2 separate regions of the Homo sapiens genome follow, and region 1 is linked to region 2. The links come from fine-mapping of genetic effects on gene expression. Tissue or cell type: whole blood. Region 2 holds a variant in brackets; the other region holds the start of a gene. All regions are shown on one strand. Distances are from middle to middle.

Region 1 (2,653 bases), 280 kb before region 2:
TGACATAACTACAAAGCACACACAGCCAAAGAGAACAGTGAGAAGACAAATCAACTCCCACCTGGTACTGAGCACATGTGCATATATAAATACCCGCTTTAGTTCTTTTCCACAGTGAGAAGGAAGAGGACTCACTATCCTGGGACCTCCTACACATAGAACCTCCACTGGCCTGAGCATTCCTTCCCCTTGGTTTCTCACTCTCTATTCAAACTCTCCTTCATGATGATCAAGCGCCCCACCCCCAACTCGCCCCGCCCCGCCCCGCAGTTTCACGACCCTTCACAGCCTTCATTTTCTTCCAATTTCAAATTCACATAACTTGGCAATTAATACGTTGACTTTGGCACTATTCTTCCAGGCCATATGCCTATAAATCTCTCGAACAGTAACTGCAACTGTGAAGTAAGCATTAGAAGTTGACATCCAGCCGGGCGAGGTGGCTCACGCCTGTAATCCCAGCAATTTGGGAGGCCGAGGCGGGCGGATCGCTTGAGGTCAGGTGTTCGAGACCAGCCTGGTCAACATTGTGAAACCCTGTTGTCTACTAAAAATACAAAAATTAGCCGAGTGTGGTAGCACGTGCCTCTAATCCCAGCTACTGGGAAGGCTGAGGCATGACAATCGCTTGAACCCGGGAGACGGAGGTTGCAGTGAGCCGAGATGGCGCCACTGCACTCTAGCCTGGGCGCCAGGGCAAGATTCCGTCTCAAAAAAAAAAGAAAAAAAAGAAAGAAAAAAGTTGACAACTAAAAGCAACGTAGCTTCAAAGCAAGAGGTCTGACGGTGGCTACCTTCGACCCAGGGTCACCGCGGCCAGTCATGACACAGGCCTAAGTTCACAACAGAAATCCTGCACACGCAGAGCTCTAGCCCTTCTCCGGGACACCAGGGAGTCTCAGGCTAACGAAACCACCAAGGCACCGTCTCTTCCCGAGTCGGAGGGCGGCAGAGCACACAAACAGATCGCGGAGCCCCGGAGGCCGAGGAAGGCCCGACTCACCCTGCTATCTTGTTGCGGAGCTTTTTGCTGGGGATAATGGCGATCTCCTCGCACACGCGCTTGTTCGTGTGGAAGTCGTTGCCCAGGCGCGTGTAGTACTTTTCTATGATGACCCGGGCCGCCTTCTTCACGGTTTTGGTGCGAACGCGGCCCTGCGGGTGGAGAGGACAGGATCACTCACGAGCCAGCGCAACCTTCTGGGAAGAGTGCGGCGCCGAGCCCCGGCCGGTGTGGTTGGGGACCGCCGGCTGCGCTGAGCCGGAGAGGGCCCGGCTAAACAGTGCCGGGCGCCGGGCTTAATGCGGAAGCCGCCGGCCCGTTGCGCTCCAGCCTGACAGGGCTCTGCGCCTTCCCGGCCCAGGGCCTCTCTGTGGGCTGAGGACCGCGGGAAGCTGCAGATGGGGGACGATTGTGGAGGATGGCGGCCTCGAGCCAAAACACCTACCATGTTGGCGGGTCCTTGGTAAAAGAGGAAACAGGAAGCACAGGCGAAGCCTGTTAAAGCTTAGGCCAGAAAGCCGCTTCCGCCCGGCCACGGTCGCTCTGAGCCTACTCGGGAGCCACACAGCGCCCCCTGGCGGAGTGGAGCGGGGGCGGCGGTGGCGCGCCCCTCCGGTGGGCAGGGTGTCTGTCCCGCCCCCGACGGCTCCTCCCTTTCCGCTCCCCGCTCCCCTCGGTTGACTTGGGCTCGCTTCTCTCCCCCATCTGATTTTTAATGGGACCGCCCGTGCGATGTGCTCTAGCGTAGCGTCCATCTCTTCCACACACGCCAGGGAGAGGAGAAGCATCCGGTCCTCGGGAGGACCGAGAAAAGAAGGCGATCCAGGGCCGTGGAACAATGAGGAAGTGGGGGATGGCGGCCGCCCAGGTCCCCCACTCAGTCCGCGGGCCGGAGACTTGTCAGGTAGAGACAGGGTGCGACTGGGCGAGACGTATCTCATTTCTTCCGGGCCTTTGCTCAAATGTCGCCTTATCAGAGGGCTTTCCCTTCAAACTTAGGTAAAATAACTCCCTCACTATCCCTGCTTATATTTCCTAGCACTTGCCGTGTGATTCGGCTTATTTTTCTCAACTAGGGGTGAGCTCCATGACAGTAATGGTCATTTTGTTTAGCTAATTCCCAGTGCTTGAACAGCGCCTAGCACGTAACAACCTCTAACATTGACGTGAAGGGCCCAGCTCACCAGCAGAGCTCCCAACACCTCAGGTACCTTCTCCATCCACTATCTTCAGGCTGTTCCTGCCGCACCCATCCTCAAACCAGGGCCTTCCGAAGCCACCAGCGCAGGCTGCCCCGATGGGCCGCAGCCTAGGTAGGGCCCTGCCCCCTTCTTCCAACTCTGCTCCCTGGGCTGACAGCAATCCTAGGCTCCCACCTGACAGGGGAAGGCTGAGCTGGCCAGGCTGGATGAGTTAAGCCCAGGGCTGTGCCTCATTCCTCAACGCACCTTGGGTACTCCAGTCGGACTCTCAACTGATTGGGGATGGAAACCTGAAGGACAGGAAACCCTGGCAGCAAAAAGTACCAATGGGACAAAAGAAAAGGCCAGAATCTCAGAACTGCGGGAGCAAACTTCCAGTCAAGCTGCTGTCAGGCCCGAAGTGAAAGATCAGGGTTTTTGTTTTTGTTTTTGTTTTTGAGACGGAGTC
Region 2 (2,851 bases):
CTAGCTCGAGAGACTCTGCAACTCATGAGAGCGAAAGAGTTGTGTTTAAATCACAAAAGAGCTGAAATTCAGGGAAAGGTAAGACAAAGATAAACATAACTTTGTTTTAAAAATACACTTTTATTTTTAAAACATTTTGTATAAATAAAGGATACAAGTGCAGTTTTTGTTCCATGGATATATTGTGTAGTGGTGAAGTTTGGGCTTTTAGTGTAATCATCACCTGTATAATGTAATTGTACCTATTAAATATTTCTCATCCCCCCTCCCACCCTCTTACTCTTCTGAGTCTCCAGTGTGTATTATTCCACACTGTGTATACACATTACTTAGCTCCCACTTATAAGTGAGACCATGTGGTAAAGCACACTTTTATTTTTAGATAGCACTTTTCTTTCCAGGCATCGTTAAAGAGCTTCTTTTCTTCGCTTATTCCAACACCATCTTCTGTGGAAGGTTAGACATAAAGTTTTCCTTTGGTTAAGATGTTTCAAAATACCATATTGTAGGTTTCACTTTATAGTAATACCAAGCTCAGTATTGAAATGGGTACTGTACTTGAAAATCAACCCAGCAATGTTTTCACTACAACTTTAAAATAATCAAAGAGATACTTCACTGCATAGTCACTTAAATTTTTTCCTATAATCTTATGACTTTAAAGCAGAAAACACTGTAAACACCTGTCTTAGTTGGCTCAGGCTTCTATAACAAGATTAAATATCACAGATTGGGTGGCTTAAACAACGGACATGTATTTCTCACAGTTCTGGAGGCTGGAAAGTCCAAGATCAAGGTGCCTGCAGATTCACTGTCCGGTGAGGATCCTCTTCCTGTCTGGTAGACAGCTGCCTTCTTAACTGAGTGCTCATATAGCCTTTCTTCTGTGTGTATGTTTAGAAAGAAAGTGATCCCTCTCTTTCTCTTCTAATAAAGGCACTAATCCCATGATGGGGGTGCTATCCTTTTGACATAATCTGAACTTAATTACTTCCAAAGGACCCACCTCCAAATAACATCACACTGGGAGTTAGAGTGTCAACATACGAATTTTTGGGGGGACACCAATATGCAGTACATAATAATACCTCATTGCCATTTATGTTTCTCAGAACCTAAATGTTTTCCTCTGTTTCAAGGATGAGATAAAGTATTTGCATCACTAGATGAAATGAAAAAGTGTTTCTTTCCTATTTGCTTTGTTATATTTAGTACTGAACAAGGAATAGAA[A/G]ATAGCTAGAATGCTTCTAAAGTTTGTTTTTAATATACTAATTTATTTTAACTTATTTTTCTTTTTTCTATGAAAATAAGATGGAAGATCTTCCAGAACAAGAAAAAAATACAAATGTTGTAGATGAATTAGAAATACAATTTTATGAAATTCAATTAGAACTATATGAAGTTAAATTTGAGATATTAAAAAACGAAGAAATACTGCTTACTACACAGTTGGACTCTCTTAAAAGACTTATAAAAGGTAAAATTTAAGTATATAGATTGCAATGTTTAAATTATAAATTTAAGGAAATACAGACCATATTATCAATTACTTTTTGTAAATTATAACATCTGAAAATTTCCTAAAGTTTTCCTTCAGTGGTTTATTATTCAAATAATATATTCATTGTTAACACATAGCAAAACAAAGAAAGAAAAATGATTATTACCCCAATCCCATCATCTAGAGATGCTTAGTGGTTGGCTGGGCACAGTGGCTCACGCCTATAATCCCAGCACTGTGGGAGGCCGAGGCGGGCAGATCACTTGAGATTAGGAGTTCCAGACCAGTCTGGCCAACATGGTGAAACCCCATCTCTACTAAAAATACAAAAATACTAAACCCTGTCTCTACTAAAAACACAAAGTCCAGTGTGGTGGCACGTGCCTGTAATCCCAGCTGCTTGGGAGGCTGAGGCAGGAGAATGGCTTGAACCTGGGAGGTGGAAGTTTCAGTGAGCCAAGATCGTGCCACTCCACTCTAGCCTGGACAACAGGGCGAGACTCCATCTTGAAAAGGAAAAAAAAAAAAAGATACTTCGTGGTAACAATTTGCTGTATAACTTTGTAGATTTTAAAATATGCTGATATATAAAAATATAAATTTTTAACCAAAATATATAACCAGTTCAGTAACATCTTTTTAAACAATTTTTAATTTTTATGGGTGCATAGTAGATATATATTTTTATGGGTTACATGAGATATTTTGACATAGGCATATAATGCATAATAGTCTCTTTTTCATTTAATACATAACTGTCTTTCTATTTCAGTGAATAATAAAAGTATCAAAATTTTAATGGCTGCATAGTATTCCATTATATGGATATACCATGATTTCCAAATTTCAGGTGTTTTGAACAGTAGTGTAGTGAACTTTACACATGTCTTTGAGTATAGGACAGATTATTTCCTTGGAATAAATTTCTAAGGATGGAATTATTGGGTCAAGGGCAATGTATATTTTACATTTTGATACATAACAGTACAATAATCATCTGAGATACATTTTTCCTCACCTCCATATTATTTTCTGATTTCTAAATTTCATGCTACATAATGACCCTCTAGATAGGTTGTACATTTAAAATGATGCTCCCAGGCTGGGTGTGGTGGCTCACACCTGTAATTTCAGCACTTTGGGAGGCTGAGTGGGGCAGATCACTTGAGGTCAGGAGTTCAAGACCAGCTTGGCCGACATGTTGAAACCCTGTCTCTACTAAAAATACAAAAATTAGCTGGGCATGATGGTAGGCGCCTGTAATCCCAGCTACCTGTGAGGCTGAGGCAGGAGAATCGCTTGAACCTGGGAGGTGGAGATTGCAGTGAGCCGAGATGGTGCCACTGCACT

The links. PIP is the estimated chance that this variant, and not a neighbour inherited with it, causes the effect. A credible set is the group of variants that fine-mapping cannot tell apart.
Region 1: RPS17 starts here. The variant in region 2 is the best candidate, but not a certain one, in a credible set for the expression of RPS17 in whole blood (TOPMed, PIP 0.50).

Annotation. Positions count from the first base shown.
Region 1 is chr15:82,538,978-82,541,630 of GRCh38, forward strand. It overlaps RPS17 (ribosomal protein S17), which reads right to left and starts at 1,480. Exons shown (of 5, transcript NM_001021.6): 1 at 1,449-1,480; 2 at 1,004-1,155; 3 at 1-8. The coding sequence starts at 1,451. RefSeq lists silencers at 1,487-1,606, 1,617-1,716 and an enhancer at 1,836-2,337.
Region 2 is chr15:82,818,012-82,820,862 of GRCh38, forward strand. It overlaps WHAMM (WASP homolog associated with actin, golgi membranes and microtubules), which reads left to right. Exons shown (of 10, transcript NM_001080435.3): 4 at 1-78; 5 at 1,312-1,477. Among named protein-coding and RNA genes, the nearest start is that of WHAMM, 9.8 kb to the left of the region's middle. The variant A/G (reference allele first, on the strand shown) is at 1,232.